Regions from separate parts of the Homo sapiens genome. Here regions 1, 2, 3, 4 and 6 are each reported to be linked to region 5. The links are microRNA targets in miRTarBase. Many come from high-throughput screens and were not tested one by one. Region 5 holds a microRNA gene; each other region holds the end of a gene's coding sequence.
What was found. The annotated mature microRNA hsa-miR-4789-5p reads GUAUACACCUGAUAUGUGUAUG and lies in region 5 at 1,606-1,627, shown strand. An mRNA with a match to its seed (bases 2 to 7 or 8) in the 3' UTR can be bound and repressed. Matches are read on the target gene's strand: a 7mer-m8 pairs with bases 2 to 8, a 7mer-A1 pairs with bases 2 to 7 and ends in A, and an 8mer does both.

Region 1: miRTarBase lists TIPRL as a target of hsa-miR-4789-5p. Seed matches in the 3' UTR shown: 7mer-m8 at 2,599-2,605.
Region 2: the mRNA of LRRC63 is a reported target of hsa-miR-4789-5p. Seed matches in the 3' UTR shown: 7mer-m8 at 4,376-4,382.
Region 3: miRTarBase lists DYNC1I2 as a target of hsa-miR-4789-5p. Seed matches in the 3' UTR shown: 7mer-m8 at 1,348-1,354 and 7mer-m8 at 2,356-2,362.
Region 4: the mRNA of ENDOD1 is a reported target of hsa-miR-4789-5p. The part of its 3' UTR that is shown has no 7-base or 8-base seed match.
Region 6: miRTarBase lists TECRL as a target of hsa-miR-4789-5p. Seed matches in the 3' UTR shown: 7mer-m8 at 2,480-2,486 and 7mer-m8 at 2,488-2,494.

What each region holds. Positions count from the first base shown.
Region 1 is chr1:168,199,205-168,204,332 of GRCh38, forward strand. TIPRL (TOR signaling pathway regulator) reads left to right here. Exons shown (of 7, transcript NM_152902.5): 7 at 699-2,905. The coding sequence ends at 842. Among named protein-coding and RNA genes, the nearest start is that of TIPRL, 23 kb to the left of the region's middle.
Region 2 is chr13:46,276,080-46,281,207 of GRCh38, reverse strand. LRRC63 (leucine rich repeat containing 63) reads right to left here. Exons shown (of 10, transcript NM_001282460.2): 10 at 4,093-4,618. The coding sequence ends at 4,405. LOC105370194 (a long non-coding RNA gene) reads left to right here. Exons shown (of 3, transcript XR_941946.4): 3 at 4,496-5,128. It overlaps LOC124903170 (a long non-coding RNA gene), which reads left to right and starts at 1,367. Exons shown (of 2, transcript XR_007063785.1): 1 at 1,367-1,422; 2 at 2,313-2,784.
Region 3 is chr2:171,746,792-171,751,894 of GRCh38, forward strand. DYNC1I2 (dynein cytoplasmic 1 intermediate chain 2) reads left to right here. Exons shown (of 18, transcript NM_001378.3): 18 at 985-3,367. The coding sequence ends at 1,098. Among named protein-coding and RNA genes, the nearest start is that of DYNC1I2, 62 kb to the left of the region's middle.
Region 4 is chr11:95,128,790-95,133,917 of GRCh38, reverse strand. It overlaps ENDOD1 (endonuclease domain containing 1), which reads right to left. Exons shown (of 2, transcript NM_015036.3): 2 at 1,273-5,128. The coding sequence ends at 4,339. Among named protein-coding and RNA genes, the nearest start is that of LNCRNA-IUR, 19 kb to the left of the region's middle.
Region 5 is chr3:175,367,947-175,373,074 of GRCh38, forward strand. It overlaps MIR4789 (microRNA 4789), which reads left to right and starts at 1,594; the gene lies at 1,594-1,675. The region is part of intron 5 of NAALADL2 (N-acetylated alpha-linked acidic dipeptidase like 2); the gene reads left to right.
Region 6 is chr4:64,275,439-64,280,566 of GRCh38, reverse strand. It overlaps TECRL (trans-2,3-enoyl-CoA reductase like), which reads left to right. Exons shown (of 12, transcript NM_001010874.5): 12 at 368-2,865. The coding sequence ends at 495. Among named protein-coding and RNA genes, the nearest start is that of TECRL, 130 kb to the left of the region's middle.

The sequences.
Region 1 (5,128 bases), not on the chromosome of region 5:
ATTTTCACATTTTGTTCTAGAGAAATTGAAACCCAGAGGTGTGACTTACTCTGAGTCACATAGCTGGCTGGTGATGGATGTTCTTTACACTTACCACCCTGCCGCCTTATTTCTTTCTACATAGTCTCCTTTTCTCTTCCGAAAATGTGGTGATTCTGTACCATAATTTGTTTGTTTTGGCATCATTTTTCTTTATTTTTTACTCCCCGGGACCTGTGAAGCCTTCCTTAGAACTTAGGATTCTATAATGGGTTGCTTAAAAATTGGTACCTTCCTATAAACTTGATTTTATTTTTTCACGCTTAGTATGTACTTCTGTCTGGGTATAGAGTATACTTGGAACAGAAAAGTTACTACTTAGATTCTATTGTAGACTACATGCTGTGCTCTAACCGAAGACTAGTGTTTTCAAGTTACAAAAGCAGGAGATACATAGGGTTGGATTAAGATGTATTAAATTCTTAGGACATTTGTGGGAACATTATAGATTATATAACCCTGTGATCTTTGATGAAATCATTCAGTAACAAAGTTGAATGATTCCGTATCAAGAAATACCTATTATTTTTAGGAGCACATATGCATATATTGCACCTGATTTTAAAATTTCCATGCTTTATGAATGCTTGAACCAAAACATTTGTAAAAAATTTCAGTACAGTAACTGAATATGCTAATATGATTTATGTATTTCCTAGCATGTTCCACCTTCCCTCTTCACGGAACCTAATGAAATATCCCAGTATTTACCAATAAAGGAAGCAGTTTGTGAGAAGCTAATATTTCCAGAAAGAATTGATCCTAACCCAGCAGACTCACAAAAAAGTACACAAGTGGAATAAAATGTGATACAACATATACTCACTATGGAATCTGACTGGACACCTTGGCTATTTGTAAGGGGTTATTTTTATTATGAGAATTAATTGCCTTGTTTATGTACAGATTTTCTGTAGCCTTAAAGGAAAAAAAAATAAAGATCGTTACAGGCAGGTTTCACTCAACTGCTGTTTGTACTGTCTGTCTTCACATTCATATTCCAGATTTATATTTTCTGGAGTTAAATTTGGATGATTTCTAAATTATCACAAAGTGGGACCTCAGCAGTAGTGATGTGTGTGTCTCATGAGCAGTGAGCACAGTCTGCATTCATCATGAAACACTATCTTCTACCAGGAGGAGGTTAATGTAAATCACCAAATCCCAATGCCTTGTGACTTTCATAGGATTCCTGATCATGCATGTTGATGTACTGGCTCTTCACTTTGGGCTTTCTGATGTTTATTCACACCTTTGGAGAGTTGCAACTTGCCACATACGAAATTAGTCTCATAGTGTAGTGAACTTCAACCCCAAAATTTTAAAAATGTATTTCCCCCCAGTTTTAAATTGCCTTTGAAATTTAAAAAAAAAAAATTTAGACTTAGTACCAGAACCAAAAATACCTAGATTTTTGGAGAACTTATTACATACATAGAAACATGAATATGGTTTACCACTGTGTGTGTGTAGGATGTTAGAATTATCTGTCCTCCATCTTTAGGTGCTTTTTCTTAAATGTGGTTCTACTTATACTGATATTTTTAATTTCCATCTTCCATGCAACCTCAGAGTGAATAAACCCCTTAAATTTGGTGCTGGTTCGAAAAAGTCTAAAGGGTTTATTAGGGGTTGTTTTTCGCAAATATTACATCAATCCTTAAAGCAACAAGATTAATTTTCTGCTTAAAATATTTGGGAAGATAGGTAAGGAGGAGGGGGTTTTAAAATATAAAAGCAAGTTTTTCTATTTTAAGGTGCATATTTGTAACATTACAGGGGATGAAGTAAAATGTAATTAATTAGCACAAGACTTAGGGAGTACAGAAAATACACAGAAGTAAATTTCAAATCCATTTGATTGTTTTCATAGTGACCCCTTAGTCATTTTATATTCTTGTCTGCCTTTCTAGAAAAATGGTTGTCATAAAGTGGAAAGTGATTAAAAAGCATCAAATAAGAAATTATTTCAAGTGGATTTTTAAAAATATTTTTTTGAAGGGCAGGGGGAAAATTCACCCCTTTTCTGATTTGAAATATGTTGTACATATTTCCATTTGATGGATAAATCATTAAGTAAGAATATTTGATTTAAAGTATTAGCCAACCTCTTCAGGTATTAGCCTGAAGATAAATTTTAACAAAACATATACACTTGGGTATCCGTCATTGCTCAAACTCTATAGTGTATTGCTGGAGCCAATAGGCAGGGTATATTTTATTAGCTAAATTTGATATTTGTCTTCTGCCTTCTGTATCACCTCCAAGCTATAGGAAATCAGGATTTTGTTGGCTTTAAGAAAACACATGGTATGTTCACTGTATATTAAATATACCTGTATTTAATGTTTTCTCTTAGGACAGAAAAGTAGACACACACACACACACACACACACATGTTGTGTTCAGCTTTCTGTTTTATATTATTTGCCATTGAGATTAGAATAGAACAGGCTCTATTCATGCAAACTATATGAAATGAAAAACTTTTAAGACTCTTCATTAATTGGAGCTTCTGGGCAACATCGTGTGTGTGTGTGTGTGTGTGTGTGTGTGTGTGTGTATACAGACATTTTTTTTTTAACTTGTTGATTCAGATGTCTTGGTCCCTGAATAGTCCTAGATTACTTATTTTGAGAATTCATTGTTAAAAATTACAGGGAATTAAAATAATTGCCTTTTTTTTTTTTAGAGGGTAAGAGATGGGTAGAAGAGTATGCCTCTGAAAATTTTATTAGTTTATTCTTGTGGAGAATACCAAGAAAATGTGTATTTGCCCATTGCTAAATATGATATATGCCATTTTGTATTTATTTGTCCCAAGTGTCTTTTTGTAAGAGGAGAATAAACAATAAGGAATTACTGATCAAAGTTTTACTATTTCATTTATTTGAGTTTTTCTTAGAGCTTAATTAAAGAAGTGTGGTTTGGGGTATACTTTTCTTATTTGTGCTTTATGTTTTGAACTCAGTCAACACTGTAGACAGTCTCCAGGCAGGTTATAAATTAAAACCTAACTGATGGTTCAGAATACAATTTCCCAGTTTGCATTTGGGCTCTTGCCTCTCCTCTCCCTCTGTTCATCAATATTTCCATGGATGTTTTTTAACAGTATTTTCTGTATGTTGGGTTAATGTTTTTGGTTTTTGAAAATATGAATACCTGTCGTATGTATTAGTTTTGAGTACTATATGTACAATTATGGTGCTAGGTATAATAGATTACAACAATGAAGCGATGTAGTATATGTTTTTATAGGATTAAAGTCTAATGGAGGAGACAAAGTAAAAAAATTACTAATTTTAATATGTGCAGTGATGGAAATGATACTGACAAGAGAGTAACAGAAAATCAACTAACTTTAGTAGAGGTAGTCAGAGCTCTGCTTCTCAAGAAGATGTGGAAAACCTCAAGAGACTGTCATTCCCATTTTAACAAGGAGAAAAGGCTGGGTCATCTATAAAATTAAAGCTTTTTTTCTTGAACATATCAAAGAACTGAAATTACAAGGCAAACAAACCAAATCCCAAAGAGTGATAAGCCCTACAAGGAGAGATGGGACATACTGACTGTTTAACCTTAGGAAGAACCCAAGAGAAAGAGATGGCCTTTATATAAACAGGTAAAATATTGGCAAAAATTTTAAGAAATTCCTAAAGTGTACATGTGGGCTAGCATACCAGTTTGGAATAGCCAAGAATCTGAAATAAGGGAACTTCATACACACTCACAAGTTCTTTCCCAAGGGCCTACACCAGGACTTAAGAAAGACTGGAAGCAGGGTGTGGAACCAGAAAGTCTCAGTAGGTGGTTTAAGCAAACAGAAGGTAGTTGGCTGCCATGAAATTCTGCCTGCTTTCAAGCTCTTCTCTTGAATGATGCAAAAGCCTTAGGCTATTGTAGGGAGGAACAACAATCATTCCTAGGGCCCAGGCAGAAATTCATTGCTCTGGGGTAGGAATGTAGACAAAACCCATCTGCTTTTGAGAGAGAGGTAGGAAATGTTCTGCCTTCAGGACACAGGAAAACAATATTACTGCTGGAAGAGTAGAAGCAAAAATTGACCTTGGAGGATAGGCAGAAAATCTGGGCCCAGGAAGCCACATGGATAACATAAAGAGGTCTGCTCCCAGTGGGGAATGAGCATGAAATTGTTGCACAAGACCAACAATAGATTTGAAACAGATTTTGACTACTATTGAGAAATGGTGCAGGAATGTTGAGAAAGCCACATCCCTGAAGGCCAGGCACACAAAGCCTGCCTAAGACCGAGGCTAGCCAAGGACAAAAAACCCCCTGTCTCTGCTATAAGCCTAGCACTAAGTAACAAGGAAAACCAGTCTGTTGAGGAAGCAGCAAGGGTGTAAATATAGATCCTCTCTGTGGTGTAGGCATACAGGGATCCCTGAAAATTGAGGGTGGGACTCAGAAAAGTCCTCCTGTACTCCAGGTGCACTGTAAGCATAAGGTAACAGCAGTCAACCACTGGAAGAATTTGAAGCCTGTAGTATACTGAAGATAGTGACAGCATTAATCCAACCCAAACCCCTAAAAACTGGTGTCTACATTGACACAATTTCCAAACTAATGGTCTCTGTGTTAGTCCATTTTGCATTGCTACAAAGGAATACCTGAGGCTGGATAATTTATAGACAAGAGGTTTATTTTGGCTCATGGTTCTGCAGATTATACAAGAAACATGGTGCCAGCATTTGCTTCTGGTTAGGCCTCAGGAAGCTTTTACTTGCGGCAGAAGGAAAGGGGAGCTGATGTGTCACATGACAAGAGCAGGAGCAAGAGAGATGCCAAGTTCTTTTTATTTATTTATCTATTTTATTTATTTATTTATTTACTGAGATAGCATCTCAGCCTGTCGCCCAGGCTGGAGTGCAGTGGCACCATCTCAGCTCACTGCAGCCTCTGCCTCCTGGGTTCAAACGATTCTCCTGCCTCAGCCTCCTGAGTAGCTGGGATTACAGGCATGCGCCACCAAGCCCAGCTAATTTTTGTATTTTTAGTAGAGATGGGGTTTCACCATGTTGGCCAGGCTGGTCTCGAATGCCTAACCTCAAGTGATCCACCCACCTCG
Region 2 (5,128 bases), not on the chromosome of region 5:
ACTTTGGTGTGAGCGTTCTGACCTCTGGAGAACAGTGATTCTCAAGCTCAGCAAGCATTAGAGTCACCTGGAGACCGGGTAGTAATTAAGATTCCTGGATAGTATTCCCAGAGATTTTGATTTAGTAGGTTGGAGGTAGGTCTGAGAATCCATATTTTTAACAAGTGTATGAATGACGCTAATGCTGTTCTTAAATTATATAATACAAAAAAAAGCACTACTGGAATAAGGAAAATTCTTCTATATACAGCTGCATCCTTATAGGTACTTAGTGTTTAAGTAAATGCAAGAAGCTGGTTAACAATATGTGGGCATCTGAAGGAAATTAATGTGAAATAGACTTTTCACTCTTAAATCTTTTTTGAGCTGGGTAAAGTATGCTAGTATTACCTATTTAAAAAGCAAATAAATACATATTTTTCCCAACTCCCAATTAAATATAAATGAACATACCTTTTGACCCAGCAATTTACTTCCAGGAAATTATACCACAGATATATGTAAACATACAAACTTATTCATCACAACATTTTTTTCCAAGCAAGAGGTTAAAAAGTTAAAAGTCCATCAAGTAGTAAACTGGTGAAATAAGCTATATATGTTTGCCCAATGGAATAATATGAAACCATAAAGAAAGAACATAAACTAATAATGTACTGATCTGGAATAACCTCTATGACATAATTTGAATGGAAAGATGCAGAAAGGAGTATATATTATGCTAATATTATACAGATAAGGAAGAAATATATGTATATGTTAGCATACATATGCATAAGCTATCCTGGAATACAAAATGATTGATATCATTGGTTGTCTCTGAGAAGGGAAAAGGATGCCAGGCATCAGGGTTAAAGAAAGAATTTTTATCCTATACACTTTTTTGTACCTTTTGAGTTATGTGACTATGTTACCTAGTAAATATTTTTCAAAAACTAGTTGGTAGATATCTTTCCATTTAAGGAAACAGTTATCTAATTTTTAAATGACTGAATGATAGTGCCTTGTATGGATTTACATACATATTGATGAACTCTTTGAATGTTTCCAGTTTTTCACTATTGTAAATATCCTGGTGGTAAGTATACTTGAATATATTTTTAGACATACGCACAAGTATTTTTTAGCAGAAAATTATTAGACTTATTATGGTAAAAAACAAAAATTAAATGTTGATTGTTATAGCTATATTAAGGTCATCTTTTGTTGTTATTGCTACTTGTAACAGCTTATTGGATGTCAGGATGTTTTAGAGGTCTCTGACAGTTCCAGATTTTAGCTGTCCAAAACACTTTTTCTTCCCCTAGTTTTCAGTTCTAGAATTCTCCTTTCTTGTGGAGAATCTAATTAGTATGTTTTGGGAGGGGCTAATTCTGCCTTACCCAGTTCCAGAGATGGGCATGTGACTCAGGCCTGGCCAGGGTATGCCATCCATGAAGCTTTAATGATTTGTTTGTATTTGGATTTGTGACCCAGGCTGAGCCAATGAAAATCATCCCTAATGTATTTTACAGTAACAGTTGGGATAGACAGTGTGTTTTCCTCTGAGGTTCCTGAGATTCTTGTACATGAACCTGGAATGATTAGTGACCATCCATATTACCTGGATATGAGACAAAATTTTTAGAAAGTATTGGTAAGAGATAGATGATAGATAGATAGATAGATAGATAAATAGATAGAGTGAGCTAGATTAGATAGACAGAAAACTAGATAATGCCTTGATGACACAGTTTGAGTCCTGAATGAGTTGTGCCAGGAGACACATGCACAACATATATATATATTTTTTGTTGTTGTTGTTGTTGAAAACCTCATTCTTTCTGGTCATATATAGTATAGATATGTTCCCCAGTGTGCTGCTTGTCTTTATTTTTGGTTATTTTTGCTCGACAGACATTTAAAAATTTTTTACATGGTAAATTTGTTCATCTTTTCTTTGAGGTTTCATTACCCGCTTTTAAAAAAATCTAAATCTGATTTTTTAAAGACCATAGCTATTTATTTTTATATTTCAACTTAGACCTTTAGGCCTAAAATTGGAAATTAATCTTTGTTGTGGTGTGAGGCAGATAATCCCATTTTTAAAAAAAGTAATACATTATATAAATGTATTACACATATGTATTACACAAATGTATGCACACATACACATGTTGAAATGATTGCCTCTGACTTTCATTGGTTGATGGTGTAGCCGAGTACCCCATTTTTAAAAGGAAAAAAATGATTTTTTTTTCTTTTTCCTTTTCCCCCGCTTCCTACTTAGCTCTTTAGGAATGCAATTATAACCTTTACCTTCTCTCCATCAGGTATGGCAAGCTTATCTATGTGTTTACTTAGAAGTTGCAGAGACCAAAACTTGAAGCAAATCAGGCCCCTCTGGAACTCTCACCCACTAAGAGATTGCCTCAATTTACAACGTAGCTGCCTGCCATGGCGCCAGCCAGACCACATGATAGATAAGACATCTGAAGCAAGTCACACAGACCCCGCACCTCCTCCCCTCCTCCCCATCCCCCCTTTAAAAGCCCTTGCCTTCTGCCCTGAAGGCTGAAGTGGTATCTCAGGGCAGGAGCCTGTACTACTTCCCCTCGGGTAGCTCTTGAATTAAGTCACTTTTTTTTTCCCACCAGACCTTGCTCTTGTTATTCAGACTCTGCAAGCAGTGGATGACTGAACCTGAGTTACAGAGGCATTACAAGGAGGATTTTGTTTTCTTCTTAGGTTTAGTTGTATTTTCTAATATTTCTATAATAAATATGTCTTACTTTCATTAAAAAATACTGTAAGTTACTTTTTTTGGAAGATCTATAAGAGATCACTCAGATTCAAGGTTTATACTAAGCATGAAGAGATTGGGTTCTAAGTATATTTCATATTTGTCTAAGTATCTAGGTATATTTAGTTTTGAAACGTCCCTCAGAATTTGTCATTTCCCTTGAAAGCTATTCTTTTTTATTTCCTATTTCATTGAGAAATTACTCAGTTAAACCAAAACCCAACATGTTTTGAATAAATAAATAAACATATTTCTTCCCCAAGAAATATTTCAGGAACAAGGGTGAGTATTAATAAACTATATGCCACAGGGAGTTAGTATTATTTTCTTCATCTTGTTTTCTAATTATGAGTATATTACATTTTAATGAATTAATTTATCATACTATAAATATCCCTTTCTGCATGCATGTGTAATATGGTAGTTACTTCTCTCATTATAAATAATTTTATTCTTATGCTGGAGAATATAGTGTATACTTATCAAGCAAAGTAAAGTTTACCTGATTCTGCTGAAAAATGAAACAGAGTCTCAAGGAAAAGCGTGTAAGCATTGCAATTTATTGAAATCAATAGAAAAATTATTCTGCCTGATTTATCTTTATTTAAATGATATCACTAAAAGATACACACAAACATGACAATGTATATTTTCTGACATTAATGATGATAGCTGTGTAAATCATTTCATATCACTAAATTTAGCAATGATATTTGAGATTTAAGTGAACTGTGTGTAAAGATATGTGAAACAATTCTATGCCATTCTAAAGTTGTTTGTATATCAAAATGCCCTTTTATCTTTCTCTTACCAAACGTTAATTCTTAAAGTAAGTTTTACTATATGTATATGCTGCTTTGCAATGTTATTTTGTAAGCTGTATTTTATTTTTGTGTCAGGCTATCACTGTAGGCCTTGGTAGATGCTGGTGCTAGCCTATGGAATCAGACTAATGTCCAGTTGCTCAGCTTTAGGACATGAAGTTCAAGGTAACAATTAAAGACTGTACCAGTTCTCTAAGAACCTGGGACATTAATTTAAACAAACAAATGGGGATAGAATTAATCTTTTATTCCCCAAAACAACCTACAATTGAGATGGAAGGTGCTGGTCAGATTTCCACAGAAATGCACAAGCATTGAGCACTTGGATGTGTGACATTGAAGCTCTATGCAGCACATACCCCACTGATGACTCTGCAATGCTATCTCATCACTTAGTATGGATGCATGAAAAGACCAGTTGTAAGACATAACCCATTTTGCAAAGGATTCCAACATTTTTCCTTTTATAGTAAACAGGCTCTGAAAGAAATTTTCTAGAGCTTTATTCAAATCTAAAGGCTTTACTAATCCTCCTTGAGTAATTATTCTGCAACAATTCCCAAACAATCACAAACTTTCATAAGGAGCTAGAATTACAAAGATAATTCGTATGAGAAGACACTTATGTCTTCCAAACAGAACCTCTACTTTCAAAGAGATGAATTACTATATGCAGATATATATGCAGTAAAAGCCAGTAAAGTTTATATATATATATGAATATATATATATAAATATATATATATATAAATATATATATATATATATATATACACACACATACGATAAATCATTGTACTATAATTCTTTTGACAACTCCACATCTAGAGCTATTCTTCTACTAGGACTACCATCTAAAACAAAACTGCTTTCCTTTATTCTTCTATAGCAAGAAGGAGAACAGACATAAAACATAACTGGAAGCTGTGATGCTCCAAAAATATCACAGGATCGGATGACACGAAAACCTTCACCAAACTTGGGACCATGACACCATTCACACCTGGATGTGCTGAAATGGAGGAAACAGCAAGTCAATATTTAATAAATTTTTACTAAAGACTCTGTGCTATGCAAGACTCCAAATAGTATAAAATACTGCCCTTACCTTCATTGAGCTTACCAGCTAGGTGAGTGCTACCCATTAAGTGAAAGACTAAACGCTAAAAAAGCTGAACAATAAAGTAGGTATATGTATAATACAATCCTAGCTTTTTAAAACAGAAAGGTATATATGCATAACAAGAAAAAACTCTAATGATAGATCCCAAATTGAAAATAGTTATTATTCTTGGGAAATGTGATCACAGGGGTTTTATGTTTCTTTATAATGTGTTTCTTTATTTTCTAATTTTTTATAATAAACATGTTATTTTTTATGATACAAAATAAATATATCATTTAAAAAAATAAAGGTACTATCATAACCTAGTATGGAATTAGAGTCCATAATGTATTTTTAAATGGTTAGAAATCAGTTAAAAAATATTAATCCATTAGTACATTAACATTAGTACAGGAA
Region 3 (5,103 bases), not on the chromosome of region 5:
ATAGTGTAGATTTATAAACAGGCACAGCCATTTGCCACAGTGAGTGGTTTGTGCCCTAACATGACAGTGTCAGACTCCTATGATATTATAATGGCAGTTATCAAAAATATTTGTTATTGGGGCCGGGCGCAGTGGCTCACACCTGTAATCCCAGCACTTTGGGAGGATGAGGCGGGTGGATCACCTGAGGTCAGGAGTTCGAGACCAGCCTGGCCAACATGGCAAAACCCCATCTCTACTGAAAATACAAAAATTAGCCAGGCATGGTGGCACATACCTGTAATCCCAGCTACTGGGGAGGCTGAGGCAGGAGAATCACTTGAACCTGGGAGGCAGAGGTTACAGTGAGCCAAGATAGTGCCACTGCACTCCAGCCTGGGCAACAGAGTGGGACTGTCTCAAAAAAAAAAAAAAATTATATATATATATATATATATATATGTTATTGGGCTGCCTCTGAAGTAAAGCATCACAAGGCTCTTTTGCCACCAGTGCAGCACTAAAGTGGTAAATAGTAGCACAGCTTTTGATGAAGGAGTTAAGGTATCAAGAAAGATTACCTTATGTTCCAAAGAAAAATACTTACAAGAAACGAGCCCCCTTATGAACCATGCTTCAAACACTGTTTCTTACTAGGAATTTTGCAAGAATACAGTAAAAAAAAAATTTTAAGGAATTCCTCTCCAGCAAAATCCATGAGATGGTGCATAGGAGTTATATTTACAAAGCATCATTGTTATTCTCTCTTGCATTGGTGGTGATAATAGCCAAGTCATTTCTGAGGCTGTCACAACACACTTCACAAACACCGTCTTTTGTTTTGAAATGTTGTAAATCATTGTTATAGTCCCCGTAATTATGGAAAGGCCATTCAGGTCAATTATTACTTTTTAACAGAAAAATTATTTGAAAACAAACTGAATAATAGTGGGTAAAATGATCTTTTATTTCATTGTATATAAAACATTGTCTTTCTTTTAACAGCAGATTGCTGTTCCCCGCAATGATGAATGGGCACGGTTTGGCCGAACACTTGCAGAAATTAATGCAAACCGAGCTGATGCAGAGGAGGAAGCAGCTACCCGAATACCTGCTTAGTTCCTGAAAAGGGGAGTGTAACTAGTGGATTTGGGAAAGGTTCTTAAGTAGATCCTGAGACTATTTGCATGCTTCTGTCTAAATGATAATTAAAAGGAAATTTCATGGATTAAACCATGGGTTTAATGCAGCAAGGAAACTTACAATGTCCCTTTATATATAACATGCATCTTGTTTTGGATTTGTGTCATTTTTTAATATAGCTGATTGACTTCACAGAAAGCAGCTTTTTTGAATTCTAATACATAGGTGTATATTTGGTATTAGTTATTTTGAGTTCTTTTCAACTTATAACACTGTATACAGTTATTTCTAAAGCACAGATGAAATAAGTTCTGCATATTTTTAAATAATCACAGTTCCCTGTTATACAGATAATGTTCTCACTACCCATAATATGTAGGAACATTGTTTCTCCTTAGCCGTAGTATGCATACACCTATCCATGTTCATTCTGACATCCTTTGTTGTCTTTATAATTCATGTGGTAGTTACCTATAAATAAAAACAAATATGCGTTAACTTTTCAAATTTTCATTTTTACTCCTTACAACTTGAATTTTTCCATCTTTTATAAAATATATTTTTTCCATATCTTTCTTTAAGCTCCTGCTGTGAGCAGCCATCTCAAATCCTATAGAGCTGTGTACCCTAAATATACCATGTGGTATATACTATAGATCTCCCAGTGCATTATGAATTGATGTCTAGATAATCTGTTGGTGAAAAAATTTCCCCTAGGTTAACTTTTGCTTTACTACTTTATATTCTTTCCATCTAAGACATATTTCCTTTAAAGGATAAATAGAAAGCTGCCTATAATTTTCACTGATTAAGAACTATGTATGTGACCTCACTGAGAGTAAAATCTTTGAGAGAAATTGATTTCATGATTTCAGTAGCCATAAAGGCAAAGTGCTCAAATGGACCCATACTTTGGCATTAAAATCTACATCTTGAGATCTGTTGCCACAGCATTGTCTACAAGTCCGAAAGGTAGGTGACAAATATCTAAGAATCAGTATTGAAATCAGTGAATTTCAGGAATAGAGGAAAGGACTATGATCAGATCTTGATTTTATCTACTTTAAATTGTCTATTTATTTGATCCCAACCTTTTGTACTTCTGAAGTGTAACTGTCTTTTATTCAACAGAACATGAACTAGGAAGAGAGATTAGAAAACAGAATGTGAACATTTTTCTTTTAATAATTGTAACAAAGATTTGTTGGGAGAGAAATTTCCAAATAATGAGTAGTGTATAGTGTAAGGAATAATTGACCTGGAATTATTGGCCCCAAACTCTGATTCTTGCTGAAGCATCTATGAGAAGTGTGATTTTAGCCAAGTCTGTGCCGCATTCTTTATATGTAGGAATTAAGTTTTGATTTAATGATTTCTGAATTTTCTTTCAGCTCTACTCAATTAAGGGGTATCAGTATGTGAAATGGAATATAGAAAAGTAGGCAATTCTTTACTTTTCTATATTCAGTTTCATAAATTAATACCCCATAATTGCCCATTATATACCAAAGACAATATCTCAAGTTATCTCATTGTAGCAGTGTCTGTGAGTCAAAACTTCAATTTTAGTAGAGTCACACTTTCTTTATATAGAAAAATTCATGTACTCACTACTCATGTAGTTACTGTATCTTTACCTTCAGTTTGTAAAAATGACTAAAAGTAGGGAAAACAAGTGTTAAAACATAATGGATAAGAAAAGGTTGGAAATCATATGGCAAATCACATGTTCCTCAGCCTCAAGGTGTGTTTAGTTGTGAAAGAAAGAATAAAATTGTTTAAATATTTCACTTTTTGGGAATGACTTCTCCCCTACTCCCCCAGAAAATGCGATGTATACCTTTGCCCATTCAACTTTAGTCCATATTTTTAGGAACACACAAATTTACTTTAAGGAATTACCTTTAAAGTTGACTATATAATAGCAAAAGAGAAAGTATTGAGACTGTCAGTGTTGATAAAGCTTCTAGCAAGATTAGGTTGACTAGAAGTGCATCACAGTTCTTTATACTTTTAGAACTAAAAGCCTTATAATTTTGAAAAATATCCAGTTACAGAAATTGTACCTTATCAGTTATACTTTTTTTCTGAGTAAGAAAACAAGCTATAGCTTTCTGGTTAATTTCTTATTTTTCGTTGTTTGGTTTTTGTCTTTTTGAGTGGAACGTTAAAGTTTATTACCTTCATGTTAAGGAATATCCAGCTTCACAGACAATTAACTTGCAATAAATCTCTGAAATAATCATTTTTTGGTATTATTTAAACCAAATATGCATTGGTAGAAGCTTTCTTCCTGTTTACAGATCCAGCTCCCTATAAAGTTTAGAAAATCTCTTTGTATAAAATGTTGTTACAATAATGCTGAAATACTGCATCTCAAAGGAATGGATGACTTAAAATTTAGTGGGAGGAACTATAGGAAAGTCGTTTTAGGAATGATTGGTCCTAGTCTTTCAGTGTTGTTAAAATGTTTTAGTCTGTTCTGTACTAGTGTGGATAGACTAATATCCACCCCTTGAACCATACAGAAAGACTTGAATGGATGAGTGAAAATCTGCTGTGAAGCATATCATACTATCTTTGCTTTATATTGAGTAGTGCATTACTTTTAAGTCAGAAAGCCAGTAGGTTTTTTTGTTTGTTTGTTTTTCCCTAAAGCGCTGCCATAAATTTCAGTGGTCACCTGCCACTCACTGGGCGGTGTATTTTTAAATGTCTTTTCCACAACCCCAGTATTTCAACATTGACATTCTAATAGTTTTCTAAATGAGAAAGCTGTATAATTAAATGTATGCTAAAGAGAATGGAGCTCCAAATGCAGCTCCAGATGCTGCTTATCATCTAGGATGCTGGTGTCATGTCTTAGTCTTCAGGATAAGCCAAGGTTAAAAAGCCAACAGCTTTACTTCTTGATGACTTAGTAATGGGGTTCCCATTGAGTTTTGTTTTTAATCCAAGCTACACAGCAACAAGAAAGGAGATCTTGCTTTCCTTAGGCTACCATCTTGCTGATTGCTAGCCCAGCAGTCCCCAACCTTTTTGGCACCAGCCATCATCTGTTTGTTTCATGGCAGACAATTTTTCCACGGACCAGGGAGGTTGGGGAGATGGTTTCAGGATCAAACTGTTCCACCTCAGATCATCATCAGACATTATTAGATTCTCATAAGGAAGGAGCACACACAACCTAGATCCCTCACATGTGCAGTTCACATTATTAGGGTTTGCGCTCCTCTGAGAATCTAATACCGTCACTTGCTGATCTGACAGGACGGGGAGCTCAGGTGGTATTGCTCATTCGCCTGCCCGCCCGCCTGCCTGCCGCTCACCTTCTGTTATACAGCCTGCCATGGACCACTACTGGTTCTGGTTTGCGGCCCAGGGGTTGGGGCCCCCTGTGCTAGGCAACTTAGAGACCTTACAGGTTTGAGGAAAAGTCACTCCCAACTAGGAACTTATCATTTACTAATTAAAAATTATTGATGCTGTGAAATTATTTACTTAGAGATCTGGCTTACAAATCTAGGGGTTCCTAATGCTGTCAGAGAATTAGAAATTGCCCCAAAGGCAGTATTAAGAGAACAGCCATTTTCAGTATTTCTTTTGAAGGGGAAGATTACAATTAGGAACCTTCTTTTAACCAGTTTTTTCAAAAGTTTTACAGCCCCCAAATGGTAGTAATTTGCTTGTATTGTATTATATTTTGTAAATCCTTTTTCATAAATAGGAAACATGTTATGGAGTCCATCTTAGAGAAAAATCCTACACTGATAACCAGAATACCAACTATAAAACTTGGAATCCATCACACTGGAATGCTTTTCACAATAGGCCAGTTCTCTCATTCCTTTTGTTGGACTTTAGGTATTTAGATTGTCTTTCTGCCTGCCATGTTCACAATTCCCAAACTTCTAAAAGTTCAAATGGATAGCAGGAATTTAAGTTTTCAGTATGTAGCTTTTAGCCACTGATAGTTTCCAC
Region 4 (5,128 bases), not on the chromosome of region 5:
ATTATGAGATAAAACTGAATAGTGCTGGACACATGTTGAGTTTCAGTTTTCTGACCCTTCTCTTTTGAGACTCCAGGTCCAACCCTCATCTGTACCTTCAGATTCATGGACACCACTGATGAGGTTCTGGCTTGCTTCATTTTCATTCATGACTTTGACTCCCAGACCACACTTTGATCCTGGTTCTTCCAGCGTTGATCTAGAAACATCCTAACCTCTAAGGCACCATCAAACCAATTTTGTCCAAGAAGTGTAAATATCATTGCCCACAATAGATCTAGCAACAATTAACATTTGCTGAGCACTTACCATGTGCCAAGCATGGTAAGTGATGAATGCTTTATGTTCATTAACTCATTTAATGCTCATAGCAACCCTTTGAGATAGGTACTCATAATTGTATAGATGAGAAAGCCGAGGTGAGTAACTTGCTGAAGATCACACAATAAGTGGGGAAGCCAGGATTTGTGCCTACATCATTTTGACTCTAGAGCGTGGGCTCTTAATCATTAGGAAGTACTGGCCTCCAGAAGTCATCTTACATCCACCTCCTCACAATGGATAATTGAGGATGACAAGTGGTTATAAGCACTTTCTTTGTTGAAATTTAAGCTTAAAAATTGATTTGGAGTTAGACATCAATCCATGACCTGGGGGAAAATACCTACAAAGAGAGACAATGGGAAGACTGAGAACCCATTAATGAAAAGCAAGCAGTCCACACTATATGGCTTGTAGTGTAACATTTGGACAAACACGTATTCTGTGGTGAGCTTAGGCAAGATGCTGCCCACACTGGGAAGGCAGCCAAGAATTACTGCCACCTCCACCCAAGAGGATCACCCTACTAAAGGCCACAGAGAGGACCAGCCCCCGTCAGAGACTGCTTGTAATTTCTCTCACTGTGGGAGCTTCCTAATGAATAAACAAACTAATAAAAGTATTTCTATAATTTTCTATGTGATTCAGATTCAGTGAAGCAGTAAGTCTTTGGTGCTTAATTATGCAAGATATCAAAAACACTTATTGTCCCAAATACTTTGCAGAGCAATAACATTAAAAAATAGTTCTAAGTCCTGTTTCACTGATCCAGACCTCTCTGTTTTTTCATGTATGATGCAAACTTTTAAAGAAATGAACAAAAGCCAGTCACTGGAAGCTGCTTGAATTAATGCGGATCAAGAAGAAAATGGCAACAATTCACAGTCCCCAAGCCTCATTTCAACTATTAGGATTCTCCCCTTTTAGATATTTTACAGAACTGCTAACGAGTTGTCAGTAATTACTTTATTGAGCATCTGCAAGGTGCACATCATTGTACATAGCTTGAAAATGTCAAATTGAGTTTTGTCACACCCTCTGTAAAGGCTTCCCTAATTTCCATGGTTTCGTGGTTTTTCTTCCTCTGTTCCAAGGAACATGTTATTAGTACCTTTACTGCAGCACTTACTTGTCCTTCATGTGTTACGATTGTACCATGTGTTCTCTCCACTAGGTTTTGAACTCCTCAAAGATGAAATCCATGCATTGTTCATCTCTGCAACCTTGATGTCCAAATACGTGTTTGACAGATGAACGAATGACTGAATAAATGAAGGATGGTTCACTTTGGTTCCTCCTCCCAACTACCTAGTCTGCATTTAGATCGAAGTGCTGATGCTGAGTGAGAAGACAACATTCAAAAGGCACAATGGAAAAGAGAAGTGTCCAAAGGCATAGCTGATCCACAGACTAGAAAATCAGCTCCATAATGAGGAAGAGGCTAATCCCAAGGCCTCAGAACATAACAGAGCCACAGCAAGATCTTTAAGCCAGAGTTGGGGTTCATAAACCCCAACCTCTACCTCAAAGCCCAGCGTAGCTCATTAGGAACAGGCCAGCAGTCCAGCCACCTGCTGTGGCTTCACGTCCAATGCAGATGGTTCTAGAGACCCACAGGCACAGCCACACTAGTAGCTCAGGGCAGTGGGTCTCAGCCACCTATCCTTACTGATACTTTTTGCTTTATTGTCCCTTTTTAGGTTTCAAAACTGGCCACCCAAGAATAAATAGACACTAAACAATTGGATGTGAAAAAGAAAGACATTCCCCAATGGTTCTCAAGAAGCCGTTTGGATGCTGTGCTCCTTACATGGTGCTAAGGGGCTCAAGCTGCCGTGGATGCCCTTTTCGGACCTTTCAGTATGCAAATATGTGCTAGGAGGGAATTAAGTTTCCATGGGATGCAGTAAGCATAATGTTGTACATGGATGGCTAATTGTTTTCATCACACATGCCAAATCCAACTGCTTTGTCAGGGCCTGGAGTCTGTTTGATGAATGAGGAAATCTTGCCATGGTCCAGAGAGGCAACTGAATAATAGCACGAACTTCCCATGTCTGACATCTCAGGTGTGATGGGACATGTGCAAACAACGTTGGCTCCTAATCTGCTCTCAGCTAGCCATGAAACTAAGGGCTAGCCTGTTGCCTCCCAGGGCCTTGGGTTCCTTATCAAATAATAGTTTGGCTGGACTGTCCCTCTGGTCACTTCTAAAATTCCTTTTCTTTATCCAGCAGGATTCTTGACCAATCAGTACCAAGTCAAACCCTCACCCTTCCATTTACCTTCACACTGCTGAAATAAAGGGACATCCAAACTTTATGCTCCCTAAGACAAGAGTTGGTAAAATACTGCTTTAAGTTTCTTAGCTAAGCCTGGTGCACATCTCCCTAGCATGGACCCATGCGGTGCTCATACTCCCTAACCTTGCATCACAAATTGATCAGGATGGCAGCTTGCTGGCTGCTGTTCTACTCTGGGTGTGCCTCCGCTATTTTTCTGCAAAATGTAACTCTTGCTACGCTCATGTTTCTCATCCATCGACCCCATGCAAATGGTTGACATATTGTTCTCTCCTTGTTGGGACCCCGAATTTTTGCATATAACTTTCTGATTGATCCTGGGCGGTAGCCCCAAGATCAGTATTTCATACTTGGCTGTTTCTACCTCTCAGCAATTCTTTAAAACATTCAGAAAAATCCAGGTGATTCCATCCCAATTGTGGGAAGCAAAGTTTGGTCCCTCTTGTTACCATTTTTTAGTGCAAGATTTAAAATGACAAGTGCTTGATCAAAAAAATTTTGAGAATGAGCTCTCACATTTAATTTGTATTAATGGGGGAGTTATGTTTGTAGCCTCAAACACACTGTAAAAATAATTTCCTAAGATATAATTATTCTTAAATATTTTATATATTTTTTTCAGAGATGGCCACAATAACTTTTATCTTTATTTTGTGGCTCTTTTCTATATAGTTGTATCAAAACAACCATTTAGGGACATAAGTCAGAGTATTTTTACTGTGCTGGGTACTTATTTCATGCATTAGAAAAATCTACTATGTTGCAGAATATGAATTTTCATGTTAGCTTAACATATAGATCTTTCAGTTCAACCTTGTCAGGCAGGGATACACGTCAAGTTAATCCAAGCTGGACAAAAGATGTCCTTGGATCTGCAGCACCTACTAAGAGCAGGGCTGTCCACCTTCTCTTCTCTTCTTTCCACCGGAGAGGACTGTATTATACCATTCAAGGGGCCCAAAAAAAAAAGAAAAGAAAACTTTGCCCTTCAATTCAAACTCTGTTATGCCACATTTGGCATAAAATGCTTACCATTACCTAAAAATGATTTTTTAAAAAATGCTTATCATTACCTAAAAGAAAAATGTAGCAAAATTCAACTTTGGAGGAAAATGAAAACTGTACATATCCTTGAGAACCACGGAAAGCTAAGAGATATAGAAAATTGTACATTCCCACAAAGTTATTTCAACAAAGAGGCATTATCTGCATTCCACCAAGGTCAGTCGAGTTGAGGAGAAAGAGAAGCAAATGCCAAGAAATTGGCTGCAGATTTTTTTTTTAATCTGTTTTGCCTTAAATCACAAAGAGCAATGGGAAGAACAAGCTCCCTTTCTCCTTTTCTCAGACACCTTTGGTCTAAAGTTGTTCTTTTTCTAGTTCTTCCCTCCCCTGTAATTTTTAATTATCAGAAATAAATACCAGTGCATTTCAGGTGGTCGTCTGTGTTAGAGTGCATAACTGAAGTTATTAGTGGCTTGGGAGTTTGCACATATAACTGGAGGTAAACAGCAGATTACTACACCTAATCTCACCCTGAGCATTTCTCCTCTGTCAAGTCTAAATTCTGCCATCTTCTTTTGCAAAAACAAGCAGACATCCCCACCAAAGGCCAAAATATAATGATAACTGACAGTGAACAGAAACCCATTGTAAAGACAAACTATTCCAGCTTTCAAATTCACTGTGACTGGATACTATTAGTTTTTTGAGTTTATAACTCCCCAGAATTGTCAAAAGTAACCTTGTAGCCAATCCGCTTGCAGACACTAAAAACCACCTGAAATAGGCCACCCAGGGTACCAAAAGCAGTGTCAAAGAGCAGTGAGACAGTGCCACCAAGGCCCAGTGCAATGTCCTTGCAAACAATTGGAATAGCGCCCATGGTGTACACAGGGAAAGTGGCCACATCCACAAGGACACGGACAGGGATGCTCAGAACTCGGCAAATGGCCTTCAGCAGACAACAAAGGATCCGGAGGAGAGCCCTGATGACTTTGGCCACGACCTTGAGCACCTTCCAGGGAATGCTCACCAACTCTTCCCCAATGGCCATGAAGTATGAGATGGTGGCTGAGCCCAGGCGGTAAAGGCAACTTTCTATGCCATTAATCACCTGCTTGGTAACACACCACAGGAAATAGACAATGTTCTTCAGGATTGCTACCACAAGGTAATAAATTAATTGAAAAAGCTTGATGAATGGGGTAGCAATGAAGCCCATGAGTTTTCCCAAAAAGCTACTACTTCCCTCAGATGCCTCTGGAGGCAACAGAGTAGACCTCTTGCTCCTGGTGCTAGAAAGGGGACTAGAACTCTTTTGAGATTGTACCATTCGTTCTTCATCCTGGATTTGGTTAACCACTTCCAGGATTTTTTTCATTTTCTCTGTGTCTTGCTCAGTTTCACCACAGTTGTTCTGAAACAGCTGAGGGTTAAATGGAAGCAGTTTCTGAAGATCTTTTACCATCACATCTTCTATGATGTCACTGTCCCGGGTGTGC
Region 5 (5,128 bases):
AATGCTTCCAGTTTTTGCCCATTCATTATGATATTGGCTGTGGGTTTGTCATAGATAGCTCTTATTATTTTGAGATACATCCCATCAATACCTAATTTATTGAGAGTTTTTAGCATGAAGCGTTGTTGAATTTTGTCAAAGGCCTTTTCTGCATCTATTGAGATAATCATGTGGTTTTTGTCTTTGGTTCTGTTTATACGCTGGATTACATTTATTGATTTGCGTATATTGAACCAGCCTTGCATCCCAGGGATGAAGCCCACTTGATCATGGTGGATAAGCTTTTTGATGTGCTGCTGGATTCGGGTTGCCAGTATTTTATTGAGGATTTTTGCATCAATGTTCATCAAGGATATTGGTCTAAAATTCTCTTTTTTGGTTGTGTCTCTGCCTGGCTTTGGTATCAGGATGATGCTGGCCTCATAAAATGAGTTAGGGAGGTTTCCCTCTTTTTCTATTGATTGGAATAGTTTCAGAAGGAATGGTACCAGTTCCTCCTTGTACCTCTGGTAGAATTCGGCTGTGAATCCATCTGGTCCGAAAATAGTTACATTTTACAAACGAATCTCTAACACATTTTGGTATCTTTTTTTATACTTTGAAAGGACTGTAGCAGGTGTGTGTGAGTGTGTGTGTGTGTGTGTGTGTGTTTATAGCCAGTATGTATATATGTAGCAAATACGTTCATGTGCCATTTAATAATGGAGATGCTTTCTGAGAAATGCATCATTAGGTGACTTCATTGTTGAGAGAACATCATAGAGTGCACATAACACAAACACATTGTGTAGCCTCCTAAACAACTAGGTTATGTCGTATAGCTTATTACTTCTAAGCTACAAACCTGCATAGCATGTTATTGTACTGAACACTGTAGGCAATTACAATGCAGTGGTATTTGTATATCTAAACATATCTAAACACAGAAAAGGTACAGCGAAATATGATATAAAAGATTAAAAAAAATTGCCACCCCTGTATAGGGCACTTTTCATGGAACTTGTGGGAGTAGAAGTTGCTCTGGGTGGATCTGTGAATGAGCAGTGAGCAAATGTGAAGGCCTAAGACGTTACTATGCATTACTGTAGGCTTTATAAACACTGTACACTTAGGTTACACTAAATTTGTTTTAAAAATTAAGTAATTGCACTAATGTCACAATGAGAACAATGCCACTAGAGTTTTTCAGCTCCACTATAATCTATGGAACCACCCTCATGTATGTGATTTGTTCTTGAGCAAAATGTCATCATGCAGCACCTGACTGTATATATATGTAGCAAGTATGTGTGTGCCTGTGTGCGCGTGTGTATATATAAATGTTACATTTACATACACCTGATATGTGCATGTGTAATTATATATGTAACAAGTATGTGTGTGCCTGTGTGCGTGTGTGTACATATACATGTTACATTTACATACACCTGATATGTGCATGTATACATATATAGGTAACAAGTATGTGTGTGCCTGTGTGCGTGTGTGTACATATACATGTTACATTTACATACACCTGATATGTGCATGTATACATATATAGGTAACAAGTATGTGTGTGCCTGTGTGCGTGTGTGTGTATGTGTATATATACATGCTACGTATGTATACACCTGATATGTGTATGTGTAAATACATATCCACACACATAGCAGGTGTATATATAGGTAGCCTGTGTGTGTGTGAGTGCATGTGTGTGTATGTGTAGCAGGGGTTTTGTGTTAGAACCAAGAGCTTGGAACTGGTACAATGAAAATATTTTGCCTGAAAGATATGCTTAGTAAAAGTCCCAAGTTTCACACATTTTTGAGGCTCAAAGTGAAGAACTCAAAGTGAATTATTAGGTAATCATATCTACTTCTTCCTAAACCCTTCATCTGATTGTGTGCTAAAATTTAATACTAACTGATCTTTCCATCTCCATAAAATTCTTTGAGATAACAAAATCCTACATTCCGGTTTCTGAAGGATGGTATTCTGCAAATGTGAAAGTTTCCCTTAACCTCCAAAAAATAATTGGGTTAATCCAGCTACCACAAGTGTGAAATTGAGAAGCTGCTTGCTAAGATTGAATTTAATATTGTCACATGTCATCTGAGAGCTGCTTGTCTGATCATGTTGCCACTGGACAAAGTAAGCCTTACTACAAAGGATAAAAGAATGATTATTTCAATATCCAGTCATAGTTCATCATCAAACTCTGAGTAAAATGGAGAAAAAAAGACGTTTTATCTTATATGACTCTATGCATTTCTCTGGGAAGTCATTTATCTGGTTGCTATCCAGGAGAGCAAAGATAATGGGAAAAATCTTCCACTATTCTCAACTATAATTTTAAATATCAAATTTTAATAAAATAGGTTTTGGTTATTTCTTTTAAAAGCCCTCAATATAAGAAAATGAAATGTTAGAAACTTATTTTATAAAATATATTTGTGAACCATAAAACCCCATATAAAATGGAAATTATTATCACCATTAACTACTGATGCTTCTAATCTTATTCTGTAATGGTTAAAAAATGACTAGAATTTAGAGTTACTGCCAATATATGGGGGGGGGAGGGATTTTATAAAAATAGCTTTATTCATTTGCATGTTAAGCAAGAGTGTGATTACTGATGGCCGTAAGAGTCACTTGCTGCTTTAAGCTCTGCTCTGCTGCTGACTCTACATGTGTAGCTTTGAGAGGTCCTTTAGCCCCTCCAGCTTTCCACATAGGCAGGATGTGGCTATTGTACTTGATGATATGCCAAACATGCTTCTGATTCCAACATTCGATGGTTCTGTGATATTTCTACCTTATTACAAAAGACATTCACTTTAAAAGTATAAACACCGTAGTAACTTTTTTTCTTTCATTGTTTTCAATAAAAGGGTAATGGAAGTAAACTGACAAGTTTAGGAGGCTTTCAGAGCATAAAGGAGAAAGGCTGGCAGCTCTTGAGAACCTCTTTGCTTTCAGCTGAGAGCAAGTAGAGAATGCTTGCTCTCTGGCCCTGAATGTCATAACATTATGTTCAGAATCATTGAAATGTCTGACAACACTGTTGATTAAAAATGAGAATCATTAGGCCATGTCTGCCGTTATAGGATGAAGGGTAGTTTGAACAGTATGGAAAAAAACTATCCCAAAAGGATGATTTGTCTTAGACAATATTACCAAAATTTCAAATTATACTATGTATAGTAATTTGCAGTAATTCACTTTTTTTTTATATTTAGCTTCATCTTAAAAGTTCTCCTTCATTGGTAATGCTTTGAAAAATGCTGGATTTAGAATTATGAAGAGACTATCAACTAATATTATGGATGATATTATTATTATTATTATTTTTTGAGACGGAGTACTCGCTCTTTCGCCCAGGCCGGACTGCAGTGGCGCTATCTCGGCTCACTGCAAGCTCCGCCCCCCGGGTTCTCGCCGTTCTCCTGCCTCAGCCTCCTGAGTAGCTGGGATTACAGGCGCCCGCCACCGCGCCCGGCTAATTTTTTGGATTTTTAGTAGAGATGGGGTTTCACCGTGTTAGTCAAGATATGGATAATATTATTTAGAAACCATTCTGTGTGCTACAAAAGTCCTTTGAGAATGATATGAGCTGGGCACGACGGCTCATGCTTGTAATCCCAGCTCTTTGGGAGGCCAAGGCGGGTGGATCACCTGAGGTCAGGAGATCAAGAGTAGCCTGGCCAAGATGGCGAAATCCCGTCTCTACTAAAAATACAAAAATTAGCTGGGTGTGGTGCAGGGGCCTGTAATCCCAGCTACTCAGGAGGCTGAAGCAGGAGAATCACTTGAACCCAGGAGGCGGAGGTTGCAGTAAGCCAAGATCATGCCACTGCCCTCCAGCCTGGACAACTCCATCTATTAAAAAAAAAAAAAGATAACCACTAAAATGGCTATTATTCATCTTTCAAAATCTGTAATACCTGGAAGTTCTGCATGACCTTTAGGAAAACTACATCCACAAAGCGTTCCTTCTAGTTTCCTAATAAGTTTTAGAAGAAATATTGCCATTCTGAGCTAAACTAGTTCTACTTCCTTAGGGCAAATTCCTACCATAACATGAAATAGACAAATATAATTACTCTAAAAAAAGTCCAGCCATAGCATCTTAGAGTTTAAAGGAATAACCCTTAGGAGTTCACAAAATTTTTTTTCCACTGCTTCCTAGGCAGACCTCATTTAGTGTAGCTGGCGTGTTGCCCTGCAGACTTTACTGAACTGCTAGTACAGGAGTCGCTATGTTTTTAGCTAGCCCATTCAGTTTTTGTAAAGCTCCATCATTACATTTTTCATCATACTGACCTAATACCTAGCTATATTTAGCTTGCTCACGCTCTGCCTTCTGGAGCGAAAACATGCATGTCTGTGCATTCTCTATATCTACCTAGTATCAGTTAGAGTTTCGTGTTTTCCTTCATGTAACAGAAAACTCATTAACAGTGGACTTCTCCAAATACTTCTCTAAATATTTTTCTCACAAAATGAGAAATCGAATGAAGCGTTGGTGTTAATTCAGTGTCTTGAAGATATTAGACCCAAGCTCTCTGTCTTTTCCTCATGGTTGCTGATAAAGGCTGAAGCTATAGTCATCATTGTAATATTCCACTTGGAGAAAGAAGAAAGGCACATGCCCACTAAGGCTAACTGATCTTTTAAAGGGTCTGTTCTTAAAGTCCTGACCAACATATGCCTCATTGGCCTTAACTAAAATGGGATTTGATGAAATACATTTTATACCTGGGCACGTTGCCATACTCAATAGAATTGTAATTCTATTAATGAAGAAGTAAGGAAAAATTGGGGTAGTATCCAGCAGTTTCTGCCACACTAACCTTGCAGTATTTTAGGATGGCTGTAAGATCCCAACTAAGTTTTCCCTTTCTCTGGCTAAAAGCAATTCCAGTTACCTTGAGCATTCTTTTTGCCATCTCTCATTATGAGCATCATCATCTTCCCAAAGTGAAGTGCTTTCTTAAAATATGTTAGAAAGAACAGGACATAGTATTACGTTTGTGGCCAGACAGTGGTCATACTGTCTCCTGATCTGTACTTAGTGTGTTTTTGTTCAGGCAGCCTCAGAATGAGGAATAATTTTGGTAACTACTTGGCTGCAATTGAACAT
Region 6 (5,128 bases), not on the chromosome of region 5:
AGTTTTGAATCACAATTAATGTGGTTTATTATATTATGTGCATGTAGAGGAATATTATATGCATACAGGCAACTATTATTGAAAATTTTTAAGTACAAAAATAAATCCTTATTTGGGAATATTTTGTGGCAGTGGTATATAAAATATGTAGATTCATTTTTAATTTTTAATGTATTTTCTGTGTTTACTCATTCATGCGATATTGATTGGCTATTGCTTGGGAATGGGTATGAATAATGAAAATTGATAAGAAATTATGCAACATTTGAGAAACATCTTAAAAGCTAAACATGCTAGGGATCCTTTTCCTAATATAACATTTCATAGAAATAAGAAAGAAATAATAATTATTTCTTTTTTCTTCTAGTTGGAATTTTTACACTTCTGATGAGTATCCAGATGTCTTTGTGGGCACAAAAGAAACATAAGATTTATCTGAGAAAATTCAATTCATATATTCATAGAAAATCAGCAATGATTCCATTCATATTGTAAAAAAAGAATCTTATCTCCTATAGAAAACAGCAACATATAAATTCAATAAATAAGACTTAGTTAAGGATAGTTAACTATTATACTCCAACAATTCATGAGCAACAGTATATACACTGAGTAAAAATATAAAATAGTAAAATTTCACTAAATTTAGAGAAATGCACATGGTAATAAAAAGTATAAATTATAAATGCAATTAACTAAGAACAGCTCTGAATGTATTTGCATGGGATTGGTCCTTGAATAAAATTGTCTTACTTCATTAATACTTCACAATACTATTTGCATAAGACAAAATACCACAGCAAAAAAAAAAATCTGATTAACAAATGAAAAAGCGATCTGAACAGACATTTCCCAAAGGAAGACATATACATGGTCAATAAGTATATTTTTAAAATGCTCAACATTAACTATTCATACAGAAATGCAAATCAAAACCACAATGAGATATCATCTCATCCTAATTAAGGTGACTATTTTCAAAAAGACAAAAAATATGACAGCCGTGGTGGTTCATATCTGTAATCCTAACACTTTGACAGGCCAAGGCAGGGGAATTGCTTGAGTTCAGAAGTTTGAGATCTGGGCAACATATTGAGACTCTGTCTCTAAAAAGCATATTGAGACTCTGTCTCTACAAAAAAATTTTAAAAAGTAAAAATTAGCTGGGCGTGGTGGCACATGCCAGTAGGTAGTCCCAGCTACTCGAGGTTGCTCCAGCTCAGGCGTTCAAGGCTACAGAGAGCCATGATTAAACCAAGGCACTCCAGCCTGGGTGACAGAGTGAGACTGTCTCAAAATAAAATAAAAATAACATATTGGTGAAGATGCGGGAAAAAAAAAAGAACTCTTAGACACTGCTGGTGGGAATGTAAACTAGAGCAGCCATGTGGAGAACAACATGGACTTTCTTCAAAAATTACAAATAGAACTATCATATGATCCAGCAATACCATTACTGGAAAAAGGAAATCTGTATATTAAAGAGACATTTGAACCCTATGTTTACTGCAGCACTATTCACAATAGCCAAGATATAGGAGCAACCTAGGTGTCCAACAACAGATGAATGGATAAAGAAAATGTGGTATATATACACAATAGAATACTATGCAGCCATAAAAACTGAATTCCTGTCATTCAGGACAACATGGATGGAATTGGAGGGCATATGTTAAGTGAAACAAGCCAGGAACAGAAAGTTAAACATTGCATGTTATTACTTATATGTGGAAGCTAAAAAAATTGATATCATAGAAGTAAAAAATAAAACAGAGGATACTACAGGCTGGGAAAGCTGCAGCAAAGGGAGACTAGAGAGAGATTTGTTAAAGGATACAAAGTTACAGCTTGGTAGGAGGAATAATTTCTGGTGTTCTATACCACTGTAGGACGACTATAGTTAAGAACATTATATTCCATTTAGTTTCAAATAGCTAAAAGGAGATTTTGTCCCCAACAAAAAGAAATGATAAATATTTGAAACCATGGATACTCTAATTTCTCTGATCTGACCACTATAAATTATATGTATTGAAACATTATTATGTATCTCCCAAATATGTTCAATTCTTATGTCGCTCAAAAAATAAAATTTAATTTAAAAAGTATCTGATTTTTAAAGTAAATATTTTTTAAAGTTTTGACATTTAAATTACTTGAATCTCATTATTTTGACAATAATTTAATTCTTTTATTGTTCAATCTGTTAGTGAGATGTGTCATAGGTATTATGTCATTAGTTCAAATTCTTGCGGAAATTATAGCTATATTAAAAGTGTAACATTTTTATTTAGTTGTGTACTTATTTGTTAATAATACAGACATTGTATGTTATCATACTGAAATTTACAATTAAAATATTTTCTGTAGATTATTTGAAAATCATTCTAAATATATATTTTGAAATATATAGATTATATTTGTATGTAAATTATATTTATACATCTTCTGAAATATATTTCAAAATATGTGTGTACGTGTGTATATGTGTATATATATACACATATATATACACATACACAAATATATGCATATTTCAAATGGATTGTATGCACTTGCAAAGCAAAAGTACATTGGTAATTTGGGCACATTCAGAGTGGAAAAAATTTGTTCTATTTTTACATCTTTAAATACCTATCTTCTATGAAAGCCTATGTGCATGTGTGTGTGTGTATGAGTTTCTATGTGAGCATGCATATATACTTCACAAAGAGATGACCTATATAAATCAAAGTACACATTATTTAAAATATTTAAAAAAATTTTCAGTTTCTTCATTTTTAAATTGTGATTTTTAGATTTGTTAGTCTATGGAGTATTTTCAATTCTCAGATTATACATATGTTATAAAATATGTTCATTAAAGCTCTTAGATTATATGCATATATGACAATATATACATATACAACTATATACACATATACAACTATATATATGTGACAATATATTGTAAAGCAGGTCTATATACACTGGGTAGGGGCTGTTTATTACTAACATATGTGGCCACTAAAGAAATAACAAAAAGCCCCTTTAAAAGCCTTATAATTCCCAAAGCATACTATTAAAATTTCTAAGGAGAAAACAATAACAACAATAAAATTCTCACTCCCTAATATCTATTCAGCTAAATTGTATGATATCATTTAATGATCTTAAAAAGAAATGTCAATGCAGTAAATCATATATACCTAATGCAGCTATATGATCAACTACTTGTGATAAATGTCCCTTTTTTGAAAGACTAAGAATAGTTTCTGTTTTTGTAACTCGATCCTGACAAATAGTAACCTAGGAAGTTTGCACATTCTTGTAGGACTAGAAGAAGGACTTTAAGTATGGGGTACCTATATGACAGACATTTTTTTTCCCATTATACTACACTCCCTTATGCCAGTTGCTCCATCATACTTTTTTTGTATCAGTTATTCCCTTACTGTTGGCAGACATACCTTAGTTAAAGGATATCTTAATTATGAAATGTGTTTTTTAAATTTATTTCTCATTTTTATTTCCAGGTGGTCTCACTGCCTAAGACATCAAAAGAAAAAGCCTGACAAATTTACACCATCTTGTTGTCAATATTAATGCTACAGGTATAATCCTGTAGCAGCCATGTACACATTTTTAGCCTTTAAAACCTAACCTTCATTTACAGGTTTTAGGAGTTACTATACATAAGTATGTACACATATGCATATGTATATGGGTATGTGTGTAAATGTGCACACTTACAAACTTTAATGATACTCTAAATTAATATATAAGATTTATGTAAATAATAAGTTTGCATTGCTGGCTAAAATATTGTGCATTTATTTTAATATAAAACAAATCTATATAATCTCACATATTCATGGTTTTTTGCCACATATCTAAGTAACTTAATTTTAGCTTATGGAGTATTTTGCAGGAGCAGCATTCAACACTGCATAGATTAGTTGTAAGTGTCTCAATTACATTTACATATCAGTGTGTTTGGTGGGGAAAGAAGATGAAAAATAAAACATTTGAATATAAAATTAAAATAAATAAAATATGACATTTATTTATGATAGATGTCATAATTTGATCATATTCATAGGAAAAACATTAATGAAAAATTTAAATGCAGAAAAATATATACACACATTATACAAATTAACAATAACATTACTACCACAGTTACTTATTGAAGTAATATGCTGTCTTTAATATGTTTCATTATACCATGTTCTCTCAGAGTTAACACTCTCATCCTATAAATAAAAGATATATTCTCAAATTCTAAAATTCTTGTGTGTGTATTTTCAACAGTTGTTATTTTTAGGTCAAGAAAAATATTATGACAATATTAGCAACTGTTAAATTCTATGCTTTGAGACGTATAGGCCTCATTTCTAATTTAATAAGGTATGTATATATTTGATATTTTCATAAAAGCAATACAGGGTTTGGCCAAGAAGTTTTGCCGTCTGTGAAAGGCATGCATTTGATGCTATTATAAGCCATATTAACTGGAGAACATTTCTAAAATACCTCCATTTCACATGCAAATTTTATACTCTATATATTGATGGATTTGTTTATGAGATTGAGAGTCAGATGTAGCAATTGGTGAGAGAGGAAACAGTTACAAGGCAGCCTCTACTTTTTAGATAGTTCGCTTGTTTAAGAGACAAAACAAGTTCAACTTTAATTGAAATATTGCATATTTGCTTGCTTAATTACTGTTAAACCTTAAATTAAATATTCTTTATAATAAGCATGTCTTCGAACATGAAATAAAATTAACAAGTCTGAGAGTGAAACTTTTCCCATTATGAGAGACATTTTAGTCAGCCTCATCACAAGAAGACTTTTGCTTTCCTCAAACCATCCCATATTTCTTTTTGACACTTGAAAGTATGCCTCTGCTTCCTGTATTTCTTTTAAACATTCTGGAGCTTTTGTTGTTTTGTTGTAACTGTTGCCAAATTTATAATTGTTAGATGACAAATGTCCTTAACAAGTGTTTTTCAGTAATTGTGCCTAAAGAAATACAATTATAATTGCCATCAAACTAATTTGGTATGCATGCTTTTACCTCCCAAACCATAAATTGTCCTCTTCCTTCAGGACACTGTAAACCTTGAATTAGAATCAAATCAAC